Homo sapiens: one gene and its partner. Each later gene encodes a partner of the first gene's protein in a complex. Each region holds a gene or a part of one and is shown on either strand. Other genes may lie near its edges. The genes, in order: NUP153 and NUP214.

What was found.
Region 2: NUP153 (region 1) and NUP214 share a complex: the UniProt entries of both Homo sapiens proteins name them as parts of the nuclear pore complex.

The regions. Positions count from the first base shown.
Region 1 is NC_000006.12:17,695,558-17,704,452, reverse strand, and holds part of NUP153 (nuclear pore complex protein Nup153), read left to right. Parts: intron 1-8,895. UniProt on the Homo sapiens protein: Component of the nuclear pore complex (NPC), a complex required for the trafficking across the nuclear envelope. Functions as a scaffolding element in the nuclear phase of the NPC essential for normal nucleocytoplasmic transport of proteins and mRNAs.
Region 2 is NC_000009.12:131,225,391-131,234,285, forward strand, and holds part of NUP214 (nuclear pore complex protein Nup214), read left to right. Parts: intron 1-2,769; coding exon 2,770-2,941; intron 2,942-5,239; coding exon 5,240-5,379; intron 5,380-6,893; coding exon 6,894-6,918; intron 6,919-8,063; coding exon 8,064-8,097; 3' UTR 8,098-8,895. UniProt on the Homo sapiens protein: Part of the nuclear pore complex. Has a critical role in nucleocytoplasmic transport.

The DNA of each region.
Region 1 (8,895 bases):
TTTTCTCCTATGAATGCCTTTGAGTGCTTAGATTTTCTTGTATGACATGTAGAAAAATGACTTGTTTTAAATATAGGTCATTGGATGGTCTGAATAGAGGTTAGAAGGGAATTAATATTTTCCAGATGTCTGAAGTTATCACAGCTTTTTTTTTTTTTTTTGAGACGGAGTCTCGCTCTGTCACCCAGGCTGGAGTGCAGTGGCGCGATCTTGGCTCACTGCAAGCTCCGCCTCCCGGGTTAATGCCATTCTCCTGCCTCAGCCTCCAGAGTAGCTGGAACTACAGGCGCCCGCCACCACGCCCAGCTAATTTTTTGTATTTTTAGTAGAGACGGGGTTTCACCATGTTAGCCAGGACGATCTCGATCTCCTGACCTCGTGATCTCCCCGCTTCGGCCTCCCGAAGTGCTGGGATTACAGGCGTGAGCCACCGCGCCCGGCCCCTGATCACAGCTTAAATGTACTTAGATAAAATAAAAATCTAATTTTGGGGAGATGATGTCTTAACAGCATAACACCTATGATCCAAGGTGTCTTAGAGTTGATACGACTTCAGGCTGTGTAGTTTTGTTTTAAATCTTGATAATTTATCATTGCCCCTTATCTAAAATACTTTTGCTTCTTGTCCTATTTAATTAAAAAAGAAAACATATTTTAGCTTTTGAATTGGGAAGTAAAGGTATTTAGGGGTTTCTTGATCAACACTGTAGGTGCTATTTAATATTGGCAGAAACTACCACTACCCAAGGAAAGTATTCAGGTATATTCAAAAGAATACTCTCCTTTTTTTTTTTTTTAATCTTAAAAATAAGGACTTTCTTTAGTCCTTATTGAGGCTTTGGTGGACATAGGGTCTACCCACTTGCTGTTTATTATCCTAGGCTGTCAACTGGATGTTTTGCAGAAGCTGCTGAGTCATCATGAAGCAAGCTTCATGACATGGCATGTTTTATACTAATGTTATTTGATTAAGTGTCCAAGGGTTTCTGGGCAAAAATTAAGCTTTTGGTAGTATAGCAGAAAGTTGGAGTAAGAAACAATGAGAGGTCTGGCGCTGTTAGTTAATGGATGTTTGCCAGTGCCTGTCAGGGCAACTTGGCTAGTACAGTCACCCAGTACCTATGACTTCTGCATGTGTTCATTTGACTTGTAATTTCCTGTTTTGACTTCTGGGTTTAGCTCTCCTGGGAAATGCTGTAAGTTTACTACTTTCCTTCTTTAACTTATTTTTTTTTTAATTTTTTTTTTTTTTTTTGAGATGGAGTCTCGTTCTGTGGCCCAGGCTGGAGTGCAGTGGCTCGATCTTGGCTCACTGCAACCTTTGCCTCCTGGGTTCATTCCATTCTCTTGCCTCAGCCTCCCAAGTAGTTGGGATTACAGGCATGCGCCACCACGCCCGGCTAATTTTTGTATTTTTAGAGACGGGATTTCGCCATGTTGGTCAGGCTGGTCTCAAACTCCTGACCTCAGGTGATCCACCCGCCACAGCCTCCCAAAAGTGCTGGTATTACAGGCGTGAGCCACCGCGCCCGGCCCAAATTCTGATCTTTAAAATGTCATCTTGCATGAAGTTGTGCAGACAAATTCATTGTCTTGCTCAAATAACTGAAGAGTTATAAGGGTAATAACTCTTAAGAATTGTAGAAGCAAATATGAAGAACAGCCCTGAATAATGCAAGCTGATCATTCTTACTTGCCTTCTCCCCTACCCCTTTACCTTTTTGCCTAGATGCATTTAGGAAATGGTGTCATTTTTCTTTTCTCCTTTCTTTTTTTGAGACGGAGTTTTGCATCTGTTGCCCAGGCTGGAGTGCAATGGTGCAATCTCGGCTCAGTGCAACCTCTGCCTCCTGGGTTCAAGCTATTCTCCTGCCTCAGCCTCCCGAGTAGCTGGCATTACAGGCATGCGCCACCACAAACGGCTGATTTTTTTTGTTTTGTTTTTGAGACAGAGTCTCGCTCTGTCACCCAGGCTGGAGTGCAGTGGCACGATCTCTGCTCACTGCAAGCTCTGCCTCCCGGGTTCACGCCATTCTTCTGCCTCAGCCTCCCGAGTAGCTGGGACTACAGGTGCCTTGCCACCACGTCCGGCTAATTTTTTGTATTTTTAGCAGAGACGGGGTTTCACCGTGTTAGCCAGGATGTTCTCGATCTCCTGACCTTGTGATCCACCCGCCTCGGCCTCCCAAAGTGCTGGTATTACAGGCATGAGCTACCTCGCCCGGCCAGAAATGGTGTCATTTTTCTAGTTGAGAGTGAATAGGTAACTGAAGAGAATGTGGTTAGTTCCTGTCTTCCTTTTCCATTTCCTTTTTGTTCAGATTGTCAGGCACAGAAAGTCAGCTCTTTGGAGAGGTCAGGCTGCTTGCTTTTCTTAGTAACCACTACAAAAAACTTGAGTCCATGGGCAAACCAGAACCTACTGCCACCTCCTGGTGAGAGGAAACCACTTATTTTTGCCCTTTTTGTCCCGGGATGGGGGTGGGGTGGGGTGGTGTGGGTAGTATGCTTCAGACATTTATCTTCTGGTTTAGAGCTAAGGGACTCCGCCTTTAATCCTCCTAGATATAGTTTGTCTTACAAGTCAGTTCCTGCATTTAGCTTTTTTCCCCCCCCCCCCGAGACAGAGTCTTGCTCTGTTGCCCAGGCTGGAGTGCAGTGGCACAATCTTGGCTCACTGCAACTTCTGCCTCCCGAGTTCAAGCAGCTCTCCTGCCTCAGCTCTTGAGTAGCTGGGATTACAGGCGCAGGCCACCACGCCTAGCTAATTTTTGTATTTTTTTTTTTTTTTTGAGATGGAGTCTTGTTCTGTCACCCAGGCTGGAGTGCAATGGTGCGACCTCGGCTCACTGCAACCTCCGCCTCCTGGGTTCAAGCAGTTCTCTGCCTCAGCCTCCCGAGTAGCTGGGACTACAGGCACGTGCCACCACGCCCAGCTAATTTTTGTATTTTTAGTAGAGACAGGGTTTCACCATCTTGGCCAAGCTGTTCTTGAACTCCTGACTTCCTGATCCACCTGCCTTGACCTCCCAAAGTGCTGGGATTATGGGTGTGAGCTACCACACTCGGCCTAATTTTTGTATTTTTAATAGAGACTGGGTTTCACCAAGTTGGCCAGGCTGGTCTCGAACTCCTCACTGCGTGGTCTGGCCTCCTCGGCCTCTCAAAGTGCTGGGATTATAAGCGTGAGCCACTGCACCTGGCGCATTTAGCTTTTTTTTTTTTTTTAGACAGAGTTTCGCTCTTGTTGCCCAGGCTGGAGTGCAACGGCACCATCTTGGCTCACTGCAACCTCCACCTCCTGGGTTCAAGCAACTCTCCTGCTTCAGCCTCCCAAGTAGCTGGAATTACAGGCATGCGCCACCACTCCCAGCTAATTTTGTATTTTTAGTAGAGATGGGGTTTCTCCATGTTGATCAGGCTGGTCTCGAACTCCCGACCTCAAGTGATCCATCCACCTGCCTTGGCCTCCCGCGAAGTGCTGGGATTACAGGCATGAGCCACTGCTTAGCTATTTTTAAAAAGGGGAAGGAAACCTCTTTATCAGTAGCTTAGATCAGGGGTCAGTAAACTTTTTCTGAAAGGGACACAGATAGTGAATTTTTAGGCTTTGCTGTGGTAAATTGTCCTTTGTTTTGTTTTTAAAAGTCCTTTAGCAAATGTAAAAACCATTCTTAGCTTGTATGAAAAAAGACCAAGGTCTGAATTTGGCCCAGCCCACAGGTCATTGTTTGCTATACCATGGTTTATATGATAGTATTGTTTTTATTTGTTTTGGTAGCTTCTTTGTGATACTCTGTCCCAAATAAGTATGTCCTGCCTGGTATCTGATAGCTGGAGTGTTCTCAGATTTGAAAAGGAGGGATATTTAGAGGTCGAATATTTAAATCATTCCAGAAGTCACCAAGTTTTTAACTTTTATTTTATCCTTATTTGCTTTATCCTAGATGCTTAATATAATCAGTGGGAATAGAAATGGAAACATTGATAGGATTGGATAGTTGATAGGATAGTTGTTAGGAAAACATTGTAGTGTAATGGAGTCAGCCTGAGTTTGGATCCCTGTTCTGCCTGGACTTGGACAAGTTAATTTACTCATCTGTAAAGTGAAAATTGTTGTGGAGGTTAAATGGGACAAGTGAAGATTTTAGAACAGGACCTGGCATATGTATATAGGTAAGGAGTTATTAAAAATTGAGTCCTTATTATATATATGCAATTGAAATTTGAAATTAAATAGAACTGTTTGATTTAGGATCTTTTTTTTTGTGGGAGACCACAGTTTTATTATTACTCAAATTAGTCTCCTGATTTAGGGTCTTCATATTGTCTCTGAATTTTCCTGCTTCTTATCAGAAGTTTTGTTTCCTTTAGGTGACTAAATTCAATACTTGCATGTATTAAATTGTTTAATGCAAAGTAGGTGTTTTGTTTGTGATGAGAGGTTTTGTGTGGTATTATATTAATTTACTTAATTTTTCTAATAAGTGACAAAAAAGTCCACTTGCTGTATCCATTTTCTGGGAAGTCCCTGACAAGGCAGATATCTTAGTTTGAAGTAAAATAAAAATTGTAGTCTGATGTCACTAATTAAAACTGTTTACTTTTCTTTTTTTTTGAGACAGAATCTAGCTCTGTCACCCAGGCTGGAGTGCCATGCTGTGATCTTGGCTCACTGCAGTCTCTGCCTCCCAGGCTCAAGGGATTCTCCTGCTTCAGCCTCCTGAGTAACTGGGGTTACAGGTGTGTGCCACCACGCCTGGCTATTTTTGTATTTTTAGTAGACACGGGGTTTCACCATGTTGGTGTGGTGGTCTCAAACTTCTGACCTCAAGTGATCTGCCCTCCTCGGCTTCCCAAAGTGCTGGGATTACAGGCGTGAGCCACCTTGCCCAGCCAAAACCATTTTCATTAGGCACAGAGTATTGCAAAGATTGTAATTATCTTGTATTTTCTTTTTTTTTTTTTTTTGAGACGAGTCTCGCCCTGTCACCCAGGCTGAAGTGCAATGGTGCGATTTCGGCTCACTGCAACCTCCGCCTGCCAGGTTCAAGCAATTCTCCTGCCTCAGCCTCTGGAGTAGCACGCACCATTATTCCTGGCTAAGTTTTTATATCTTTAGTAGGGACGGGGTTTCACCATGTTGGCCAGGCTGGTCTTGAAGTCCTGACCTTGTGATCTGCCTGCCTCAGATTCCCAAAGTGTTGGGATTACAGGCTTGAGCCACCACGCCCAGCTAGCTTGTATTTAAAAAAAAAAAAAATTATTTGTAGCTATTTAGCTTATCTTCATGGTTGTAATATATTTTTAAAAGATTCTTCTGTGTTGGGAAGTTTGGTTTCAAGTCTTGCTGACACATACCATTTACTGTCAGAAACAGGATGATAGGATGCCTTTTCTATCTATAGATATTTCAGTTTGCTTGATTTTGCATATCTTTTTCTTAGTGTGATTTAAGAAACAAACTCTTACTCCCAATTTTCAAACATGTTACCTGAGAAAAAGTGTGATAGTATCTTGTAGGTAACTTTTAGTGAGTTTAACTACTGTGAGCTTTTATTGAGTTTTCTTTTTTTTTTTTTAAGACAGTGTCACTCTGTTGCCCAGGCTGGAGTGCAATGGCACGATCTTGGCTCACTGCAACCTCCGCCCCGCTCTGGGATTCAAGTGATTCTCCTGCTTCAGGCTCCCAGCTCTTTTTTTTTTTTTTTTTTTGAGACAGAGTCTTGCTCTGTCGCCCAAGCTGGAGTGTAGTGGCGCGATCTCGGCTCACTGCAAGCTCTGCCTCCCGGGTTCACGCCATTCTCCTGCCTCAGCCTCCCAAGTAGCTGGGACTACAGGTGCCCACCACCACGCCCCGCTAATTTTTTGTATTCTTAGTAGAGATGGGGTTTCACCATGTTAGCCGGGATGGTCTCAATCTCCTGACCTTGTGATCCGCCCACCTCGGCCTCCCAAAGTGCTGGGGTTACAGGCGTGAGCCACCACGCCCGGCTGCTCCCAGCTAATTTTTGTATTTTTTCGGTAGAGACAGGGTTTCGCCATATTCCCCAGGCTGGTCTCCAACTCCTGGACTGAAGCAGAACCCCTGCCTTGGCCTCCAAAGCACTGAGATTACAGGCGTGAGCCACGGTGCTTGGACCTGAATCTAGTTTCAATAATCTGAATTTAACATCCAAATCTAAGACATTATTGGTTGTATTTTATAAGCCTATGCCATTCAGCAGCGAAGTTTACCCTATCCAATCAGTCCAAGTCCTCTAGCCATTTAAAGTACTTTTCTAGCTGAAGAATTAAAAACCTGCTCCCTGGGAGAATAAGATTCCAGAACCTTAAAACTGATGATGGACTGCATTTGATATTTATAGTTAAAGATCCAGTGAAACTATTTGAGAAAGGAGATTTTATAATCTGAACACTGCTAAGGATAATGTGAAGAAAAGGGAGTTGAACAGAACTGAAGTCAAGAAAACTAGTAGGAAGAAAAGAGCTTTGTATAGAAGGAAGGAAGGATATATAGGAATGACAAGGAGTTGGCCATACTGAAAAGATGCCTCTGGTTATTCCTGTGAAAAGGTTTATAAGAAAAGAATGTCGTTAATTACAAGTGAGTTCTGAGTTAGTGTTATAGAATAGCCTTCCCCCACCCCAGCTGTTTCTGAGTTAGTGTTATAGAATAGCCTTCCCCCACCCCAGCTGTTTCTGAGTTAGTGTTATAGAGTAGCCTGCCCCCACCCCAGCTGCCTTTCATTAATCCTTTTTTTTGAGATGGAGTCTCGCTCAGTCGCCCAGGCTGGAGTGCAGTGATGTGATCTCGGCTCACTGCAACCTCTGCCTCCTGGGTTCAAGCAATTCTCCCTCCCTCAGCCTCTCAAGTAGCTGGGATTACAGGTGCCTGCCACCACGCCTGGCTAATTTTTGCATTTTTTAATGGAGACAGGGTTTCGCCATGTTGGCCAGGCTTGTCTTGAACTCCTGACCTCAGGTGACCTGTCTGCCTCAGCCTCCCAAAGTGCTGGGATTACAGGCATGAGCCACTGCGCCCAGCTCATTAATCCTTCAACTCAGGTTAAATATAATTTGAAAAGCTAATGTATTCACAATACCTTATACGTTGAATGTTCCTGATATGTATGTAGTATTGAATTCTAATCCCCAGATTGAATTTTTAATTAGTCTAAATCTCAGTGGCATTTTTGACATGTTTTGCCAAATGAAGAACCCTTCTTTCTTGGAGAGAGAATACCCAGTGGATTTAGCCAGTTCACATTCTAAAATTCACTCCTTTAATCCTTGAACTTAAATTTATTATTTATGATTATGAAGTGTGGACTTTGCTTTAGGGCCACAGAGTATTTTTTAAGATTAATTTTTTTTTTTTTGAGACGGAGTCTTGCTCTGTAGCCCAGGCTGGAGTGCAGTGGTGTGATCTGGGCTCACTGCAACCTCCGTCTCCCAGGTTCAAGTGATTCTCCTGCCTCAGCCTCCTGGGTAGCTGGGATTACAGGCGGACACCACCTGCCAGCTAATTTTTGTAGTTTTAGTAGAAATGGTATTTCACCATGTTGGTCAGGCTGGTCTCAAACTCCTGACCTCAAGTGATCTGCCCACCTCGGCCTCCCAATGTGCTGGGATTACAGACGTAAGCTACTGCACCTGGCTGTTTTTTAAGATTTTATTTATTTGTTTTATTTTTTTGAGATGGAGTCTTGCTCTGTGGCCCAGGTTGGAGTGCAGTGGCGCCATCTTGGCTCACTGCAAGCTCCGCCTGCCGGGTTCACGCCATTCTCCTGCCTCAGCCTCCCGAGGAGCTGGGACTACAGGCATCCACCACCACACCCAGCTAATTTTTTATATTTTTAATAGAGACGGGGTTTCACCGTGTTAGCCAGGATGGTCTCGATCTCCTGACCTTGTGATCCACCCGCCTCGGCCTCTCAAAGTACTGGGATTACAGGCGTGAGCCACCGTGCCTGGCCTTGTTTTTAAATCTTAAAGCACTTTTCAGGTCCATACAGAAAGCTTATTTCCCTCATGCCTGCTTATTTCCTGTAAAGACCTGAAGAACTCTTCTCTCAAGAACTCCTCAAAACATAGGTGGGTTACATTGGGCCTTCCTTGGTAGTAAGGTCAAAGGAACCTTTTCTTCCATAAGAAAACCGTTTTTCCTCTTGTCAGACTCTTTTTACTCTTATTTGTTAGTGGCTGAAGTCTTTAGTACTTCAAAACTCTTTTAAAAAACTGCCAGTCAAGGAGGTACCTCTCCAGATCTGTTTGGTAGGCAGGGTCCCTTAACTTTTTTGGGGTTGGTTGGTTTGTTTGTTTTGAGACAGTTTCACTCTTGTCACCCAGGCTGGAGTGCAATGGCACGATCAACTGGAACATCAACTTCATTTTATTTTCAAAAAATTGTTCCAGTATTTTCTTTTTCTGTTTTTTTTTTTGAGACGGAGTCTCACTCTGTCACCCAGGCTGGAGTGCAGTGGTGCAATCTCAGCTCACTGCAAGCTCCGCCTTCCGGGTTCACGCCATTCTCCTGCCTCAGCCTCCTGAGAAGCTGGGACTACAGGTGCCCGCCACCATGTCCAGCTAATTTTTTGTATTTTTAGTAGAGACAGGGTTTCACCGTGTTAGCCAGGATGGTCTCGATCTCCTGACCTCATGATCCGCCCACCTTGGCCTCCTAAAGTGTTGGGATTACAGGCGTGAGCCACCGTGCCCAGCCCCCTGTTAACTCTTGATAGTCTCCTTTCCAATACTGTGCATATTTCTTTTCCGTAGTAGTTTTTTAAAAATTTCTAATGTCTTATAGTTGGCTGTGCATCATAAACACATATTCTGTGTAAGTCTTTAACGGTGGAAATCAACTCGAAGGTCGGCTTTTATGTTAACTTC
Region 2 (8,895 bases), on another chromosome or scaffold:
CCTGGGCAACAAAGCAAGACTCTGTCTCAAAAAAAAGAAAGAAAATCTGACCCTTTTATTTGTCTAGTCTTAGAGAAAATGTATGCCCCAACTTTTCATAGTAAGTACTTATTTGCCCCATGAAACTAATACTTAGATTGAGGCCTCGAATAGAGAACAACTATCTTTCAGATACATAAGATGAGTGAACTAGTAACCATAAACATCAAAGTGAGGGCAGGGGAAAGGCCACTCCCCCTCATGTTTCAGGACTTCATCTCTCTGCTGCAGAACTCGTATTGGTTCTGGGAGAGCTTTTTCTATTGAAAGAGGGGACTGGAAGTCCCGAGCAGAAGGAAGGGCTGCTGTGAATAGAGGAACTGCCTTCCTGTCCAGGCATCAGGGCACTTTTTGCTTTAAGAGAGATTTTAAGTTGATGATTTGGATGGGTCTTTGAAAAATTCCAAAAGTATCTATCCTCCCTTCAGTAAAATTGCATTATAAAATTATCCTGCTGGAGGTCATCCGGGGAGAGGACAGGAGGAAGGTGGGATGGACTGAAGATGGCCTTGCTGCCCACCATGGTCAGTGGTCTACACCCTGCTGTCTCGCTAAAGTGTTAGATTTGGAGGGAGGCAGGCAGGGGATGAATGATGGGGAAGATGAGAGGTGGGCGTTTGAGTCGCACAGACCTTGTTCCAGTCCCAGCTCTAGCACCCATCAGCTGGCTGAAGTTGGGACAAGTGGCATATTCTCTAAGTCTCAGTTTCCTCCCCTGTGATGTAAGGATCCCAGGCTTATTGGGAAGATTTAAGAAAACTGCTGTGAAGCACCTGGCATATAGTGGGCCCTCAATAAATCAGAAAGTTTATCATCATTGATTATTAGAAAATTTGTTTCTTCTGGAGAAGAAATTTATGAAAATACGGCAACTGATAAAATCAAACCCCTCCTGCCATCAGGAGAGAGTTGCCTCTTTAAGCCAGAGTGACTGTTTTCTTCCTGTTTAATTTGGCTGTGACCCAGGTGTGTTGTTTGGGGGCTTTTTCTCTCTGTGTATATTTAACCGCCACCCCTCCCCTGTCCAGTTTATTTTCTGTATCATCATGACTTCCCATTTTTCACTCACCTTCCACCAAGAAGTCTAAGCAATATTGATACAAGGTACTAGATAGCGCCCTGCATGTCTAGGAAGAAAGTGTAACTAGATCTGTGATCAGTCTTAAATAATTCAACTGTAAGGGTTTTTTAGCACTTTTTTTTTTCCAGTCTGTTATATTTATAACCCAACAGTCTCCATTATCATGGCTTGGAATTTCACTCAGTGTTTTAACATGCGGAATGTTAACCCAAACACGAGCCTTAGCAAAAAAGTATCTTCTCAGTTGTGCAGCCTACCACTGTTAATGGCAAATAGGCACATGAGTGAATCACAAAATAACAGTTAACTGAGGGATTCAGCTGACAACTTTTCATACCCAGGATTTGATCTTTCCTGATTCAGATGGCAGAAGCTTGTGTTGTGATTACATAAACAATAAGAAGTCTGGATTTCATCCCTCTAACAACAGATTGACTTTCTGAAAGGGGAGAAAAGGCTTGTCGCTAGGCCACCATTACTCCCGCTAGCACGCAGTTCATAGGCCAACACTCACCTTAAGAAGTACTCCCTTTAGAGGGTGCTCCCAGTTAGAGCACATTTCTTATGCCATTCTATTCCATTCATTCAAGAAGACACTCACTGAGTGTCTATTCTAATACTTTAGAATGATTTCAGCAGTATCTTGGAAGTTTGGGAACCCGCATCAGGAATAGCTCAGGAGAGGATGTTTTGTCTTCCTGCCTGACAGGCATCACCAGCAATCAGAGTAGGGTGCCCTGTGCGTGACCTGACCCTTGTCTGTGTGGCCACCTGTGTGGTGCTGCCCTCTGGCAGCCTGAGCCCACTGGGCAGCAGTGTTGGCAACGTTGCAGAAGGCATCTGAACTCTAGGGCTGTCCTCACTGTTGACTTATTATTTTATTAGATTTATGCAGCAGCCTGCCTCCAAAGAAGAAATTTGGTGTGTTTTTTCATTGGGAAGTAATTCCAGACTGCAGGAAAAAAGCATTTAAAAAAAAAAAAACAAACCTCCACTGAGCGAGAGAAAGGGAGACTCTGATGAGAGACGTAGGAGCCATCAGGCTGTAAATAAATAAAAAGCACCTGGCTGGGCGCCAGCATACACGTCTCTGTCTCTGCTATGACCCAATTCAGGGATTCTCCCTGAGAGGAGGTTTTGAGCCTCTGATTTTATAATTTGGGTTTCTATGAAGCTGGATGTCTTGCCTGTGTACTGATAAGTAATATAGTCTGTCATCTTTTGTCAGCTAGGTAGGGATTGGAGTTTTTGAGAATGGTTTTTCACTCCAAACAGCTCAGAGGACCTGGGAGGGGTGGAAGGTGCACCGAGTGGGCTCTTGGAGGTCTGCTCACACGGCTTCACAGTGACTTCACAGGGTCTGCAGGAGCTCTCCTGAGTGGACCCCAGAGCCCTCTGCTAGGAATGGAGGGGAGTGGTTTGGTTTGAGGGCTTTTGTTTTGTTGTTTTCATTACTATTTTCTTGATAGAAGGGCGGGGGGGAGGGGGGGTGTTGCCCTTTACTCTAGTTCTTGCATTTGAATTGCTAACATCCTCTTTTCCCTTTTTTCTTCCTATTTTGATTTGGTTTCTCATTGCTCAATGTCTTCTCTTCCTGTCTCCTCCTTTCTTTCTCCCTATTTCTGTTTGTTTGCCTCTGTTTTGCTCAGGTGGCTTCGGTGCTGCTCCAGTGTTTGGCAGCCCTCCTACTTTTGGGGGATCCCCTGGGTTTGGAGGGGTGCCAGCATTCGGTTCAGCCCCAGCCTTTACAAGCCCTCTGGGCTCGACGGGAGGCAAAGTGTTCGGAGAGGGCACTGCAGCTGCCAGCGCAGGAGGATTCGGGTAAGCCCCCTGGGGAGGGCCCTTGGGAACCCACACGCCAGCCAAAAAGCACTAGGGGCCTGTACTCTTGCTCTGAAAAGAAATTTGACCATGAGGTGAAGGCCCCTCCCTTGAAATTTGTGAACAACTCCCTCAAGGATTCCTGTACCTCTCCAGGGTAAGACTCATTTCGTTCAAGCCAGGCTTTGTTGAATTCATGGTGGACCTCAGCTGTGTTGCTGTTCCCTGGTATGAGAAATGCTGGTCATCAGAGCCCCTGTTCTCCTGCTGGGGCTAAAGGAAGGCACCAGCCCTGCCTTAACTACTGCTTTGTAGCCAAGAGGTGCCCCGGTGTGGAGCTTCTGTTAGGAAGTCCTCAATGAATGGTTTTCACCAGATTCTTTCCTCTTGGGATTATTCTGTGTTAGACCCGTTGTCCTTGAACAAACAACTCCCTGTGTCCCCTGCTCCCCTGCAGCCCCCCAGAGTGAGTATTCAGTTGCACAGGTCCTCCCGTGGGAAGATCCTGGATGATCAGGGATTTCGAAGCTGCTCTCATTGCCTCGTGTGCGTCTGCACTGGAAAAGGCCATTTTTAGGGAGTCGCTTTTAAGGGCAGAATTTCAGTGTGGTTGCCAAAACCCCAAGGGAAAAAAACCTTCACCACACCACAACATCCCAATTTAAAAAATGTACACGGGATGACTACCAAGTCTCTTGTTCAAAGGAGGTGTCGATGCCTGAAAGGAGTTCTAAAACGCCTCTTGCCGCAGTACTGGGCTCAGCATGAGCTGAAGGTTTGGGGGAGGGGAGATGATTTTGTCTAGGGGAATTGTTGAGATACTTGGATCTGAGTCTTGGCAAGATGACAGCATCTTTATCTTGAAAATAAACTATAGTATGTTCTTACTCACACCCTTCCCCTCCGTGCAAGATGCTGGAGCGCAGCAGCAGGAGTGAGAGGGTTGGCGTGCTGCTTCTCCTGTTTCACGGGAGACTGATGCCTTAGGTTTGCCCTCAGGAAACCCCAAGAATTAAAGTTAAGGAAAGCTTTGAAAGGACAGTTAGAGACCCACTTAGGCTGGTATTCTCAGAGGTCTTAATGGATGCTGTTCTCTGCAGTGATGAACCAGCACACAGTACCACAGAGTTGGTAGAAGGTTTGGGTTGGCTGGGTATCTTGTGAATTGATTTATTTATTTGAAACCAGCTGTTTTCTTTACTAGTAGAAAAGTATATTCTGCCTTGGGGCGGCTCTCACACAAATCCCGATTGGCTGGTTAGTCAGTCCTAAAAAAGGTTAATGCCAGGTCAGTTATTAAATCTCCATAAGAGCCCATTACCTTCTTCCAGGTCCCTGGCCATGAGCCTGTCTCCGACCCTGAAGGGCAGGCTGTTGCTGATGAGGCCCAAGGCAGGAGGAGGAAGGGAGCAGGCCGCTCCTGGGAGAAAGTCCAATGAGAGCAGATCCCTTGGCCACCTTTGTATGGAAAGAGCCTTGACCTCACCATTAAAAGTGAATAGAATGGTGGGAAGGCAGAGTTTTAGATACTTTTTCTTGCTTTGGGGTTGATTCTTGCCCCCAGGTGCTGCCCCTTCTCCCAGAAACCACTGATCCGTTTCCCTCACCTAGTCACCTCCAGACCCCAGAAGCTCTCCCCAACCCAGCCGAGTTCCTCTGCAAACAATTCAAGGGGCTCTGATAGGTCACACAGTGCCACCTTGTGTGCTGGACCATATCTGGAGGGAGAACTGAGTGAGGGGGCACAGGGGATTGTCTCCAGGTGGGGCGAGCAGGGGAAGGAAAATAGTGGCCACTTTTACATTGGTTTGGGTAGTAATTATTGATTCAGGAAGCAAATACAAAATCCTGAATGAAATGACTTGGAAAAAGTAAATAGAATCAAGATCCCAAGAGGAGCTGAAGATAAATAAATGGGAGCAGGATGTGGGGGAATGGTCGGTAAGTGAGAAATGCTAAAATGATAGAATAAAGCTTAAGGATTGTTGGAGGTAGAGCAGGAACTGTGTACTGCATAGTTCCCAAATGCCCTGGTGTTCCAATGGGGGATGGAAACTAAAACACTGGCCAGGTTGGATTTCATACTGTAGTCCTGCCATTTTTCTTCCTAGAGCAGAGATAAAAGTTGGCCCTGGGCGATAGCTCATTCTCTCTGAAAGGCTGCTAGTTAGGCCCAGCCTGTCACCCTGGATCATGAGTGTCGTGTGTATTGGGACTTACAGCAGGGGGCTGAGGCTTGCAGATGGGCAAGTGGTGAGAGGCCCCACTGACCTCAGTCTGTTTCTCACTGGAGCGCAGGTTTGGGAGCAGCAGCAACACCACATCCTTCGGCACGCTCGCGAGTCAGAATGCCCCCACTTTCGGATCACTGTCCCAACAGACTTCTGGTTTTGGGACCCAGAGTAGCGGATTCTCTGGTTTTGGATCAGGCACAGGAGGTAAGCTGCCACAAGTTCTCCCCTCACAAGCAAAATGGGTCCCTCTTGCCTTCTCCCCCAAAGAAATGAGTATGTTTTACCTGACCAGTCTGTTTAGTATTTTAAAAGCTGACTGGGCACGTGGTTCACGCCTGTAATCCCAGCACTTTGGGAGACCAAGGCAGGAGGATCACTTGAGCCCAGGAGTTTGAGACTAGCCTGGGCAACATGGCAAGACTCCATTCTCTACAAAAAATGTTAAAATTCGCCAGACATGGTGGCACACACCTGTGGTCCCAGCTACTCGGGAGGCTGAAGCAGGAGGATCACTTGAGCGCTGCAGTGAGCTGTGATTGCACCACTGCACTCCAGCCTGGGTGACAGAATGAGACCCTGTCTCAAAATAAATAAATATGTAACATACTGAAAGTGGTTGAAACATATATATATATATATATTTTTGAGACGGAGTCTCGCTCTGTTGCCCAGGATGGAGTGCAGTGGCACAATCTCGGCTCACTATAAACTCCGCCTCCCGGGTTCACGCCATTCTCCTGCCTCAGCCTTTGAGTAGCTGGGTCTACAGGCGCCCGCCACCAGGCCCGGCTAATTTTTTGTGTTTTTAGTAGAGATGGGGTTTCACTGTGTTAGCCAGGATGGTCTCCATCTCCTGACCTCATGATCCACCCACCTCGGCCTCCCAGAGTGCTGGGATTACAGCACCTGGCATATATATTTTTTTTTAGGTTTTAGTTAGACTTAGAACACTGTGTCATTTCTTACCAAAGAAATTACTGTCTTGATTTCCTCTCAGGATTTGAGAAGCCCAAAATAATAATGGTCTTACTAGGCCTTGGTTTAAAAAATCTAAGCCAGCAGACTCAAAAAAAAAAAAAAAGGCATAGAAACTTCACAAAACATCTTGCATTTGTTTAACACTCTGCTTCTTCAGATGGCAGAATATGTGTCTTCCATTTTGTTCTTGCAGTAAACTGACAAGGCACAGAATTTAGGTATCATTACAATTGTACCCGTGAAGAAACAGAAACTCCAAGGAACTAAGTGTTAGCAGTTAGCAGTAGAACCAGGCCTAGAATCCAGCCATCTTGCTTCTCTGGCCCCCAAAAAGAAGAGGAAGCAAATGGATGGAAAAACAACAACAGCAAAAAAAAAAAAAAAAAAAAAAGGTTTTCCTAATGAATGGATCTATGTGGTCCAGTACAGCTGAGAGGCCAAGCCAGAGACCCTCTGCCTACAGCTGGGGCCGAGGAGGGAGGAAGAACCCTAAAATACCAAGAAGATAACTCATAAAAAGTAAAGGATTTTTTCTGCCTTCTGGGGGATCTGAGTAGCTCCAGAGGACAAACTCAGAATAAAGGGGCTTCTGTGTGTACCTTTCCTGCCTTCCTGTAGGTGGTGGAGGCACGGAGGGCTTCCCACAAGAAGCACAGAGGAGGGCAGACACTTAGCATGGGGACCACCTTTGTCTTTCGAGTGGATGCGTGCTTTAACTTCACTCTTATTCTGCTTTTCAGGGTTCAGCTTTGGGTCAAATAACTCGTAAGTATCCCCCTTTTTGAGTCTCACCTTAATTAAAAGCATTAAATAAGGTTGGAAGTGTGTGGATCTTGCTGGATTTGTGCATTTTCTTTTCGTTTTTTCCTGTTTTTAGAGTTTGTCCTGGAAGTGTGGGGGTTCAGCAGCAGGGTTTGGGTTTTGTGGACTTGCTCTTCTCTGTAGCAATATGGCAGGAGGTGCCAGGCCTCGCCTTCTTAAGAGGCGTGGTTCAAAGAGAAAAGAGCACGCCTGCCAGTGAGCTGGGCCTGAGGGCAGCGCTGAGGAGATGCTGCTCCTGACTTCCCTGGAGGTTTCTCAGAAGCTGCATGCTAACCCCTGGGCTCTGGGCCATCACCAGGTCTCATGTGTTGATCCACCCTCTGTGCTTCTGTGTAAAATTTCATGGCGTTAAAATTCAGTCTTAGCCAGGTGGGTGGTTCACGCCTATAATCCCAGCACTTTGGGAGGCTGAGGTGGGAGGATTGCTTGAGCCCAGGAGTCAAGACCAGCCTGGGCAACAGAGTGAGACCCCATCTCTACTAAAAATTAAAAAAATTAGCCGTGCATGCTGGCTTATGCCTGTGGTCCCAGCTACTCCAGAAGCTGAGGCGGGAGGATCACTTGAGCCTGGGAGGTTGAGGCTGCAGTGAGCCAAGATGGTACCACTACCGTCTAGCCTGGGTGACAGCCAGACCCTATATCAAAAGAAAAAAATATATATACTGGCCAAGCACGGTGGCTCACACCTGTAATCCCAGCACTTTGGCAGGCCAAGGTGGGCAGATATTTGAGGTCAGGAGTTCGAGACCAGCCTGGCCAACATGGTGAAACCCCATCTCTACTAAAAATATATATATATACATATATAGATAAACACACAAGAATTAGCCAGGCGTGGTGGTGCATGCCTGTAATCCCAGCCACTGAGGCTGAGGCAAAAGAAGCACTTGAGCCCGAGAGACAGAGGTTGCAGTGAGCTGAGATCACGCCACTGCACTCCAGCCTGGGCAATAGAGTGAGACTCTGTATCAAAAAAATAATAATAAAAAATCTGAGTCCTGACCTTTGCACACAGGCAGAGCAGCAGAGCCTGTGACTGCTCTGTGACAGAGCAGCTGACTCCACCACTGTCCTGTGCTTCCTTGCAGGTCTGTCCAGGGTTTTGGTGGCTGGCGAAGCTGAGGGCGTGTCAGCAGGCCTTTCGATCCCTGGGACCAACCGCATCCTCAGCTTCTTCCCCGAGAAATGCTGGAGCAGGCTGTTCAGACCGACGTTGCCATCAAAACACATACACCCAGAAAGAAACAACAGAAACCAAAACTCACAAGGCGCATGATTACTTGTTTTATATTTCATGTTGGGTTTTCCCTCCCACTATTAAACAGTCTGTTTCCGTACAGAACGTATGTGGGTTTTTTCAGATCACAGCCAAGAAGATTGCCCCGTTTCTGTGGCTCTGAGAAGCCAGCAGAGCCTCCATCAGCCAGAACACTGTGTCTTCAAGGATGGCATCAGAAGTCACCAGCGTCGGGTGTTGATAAACAGCATCGAATGTGCCGTGGTCTCACTTGGACCTAGCGCCCTCCACATAGGGAAGAGGTTGAATGCTGGTGGGTCATCTTTTTGAGGCTGAAACTTGGTTATCTCCTCTCCTTGTTCTTTTAGCCATTGTGTATCAGGACCATCCAAGGACGCACTCTGCGATTGAGTGGAGGCAGAGGAAGCCACTCATGCCAGCAGCAGTTGAGTTTCAGAAGCAGCCATAGCGCTTTTCAGTACAGTACAATAGTAGCCAGCGTGAGGCAGGACAGTGCTGCGCCTTAGCCGGCCTTGGCTCTCATCTCCATGTGGCTCTTGGGTGCCATGTGTCCTACTCCAGAGAGGAGGGGGCCGGTCACTTGAGAAGACAGCCTTTATATTCTGTATGTGGCAGTGACATTGGTAGCCACACCTACCCAGTGTCTACTAACCACAGTGCAG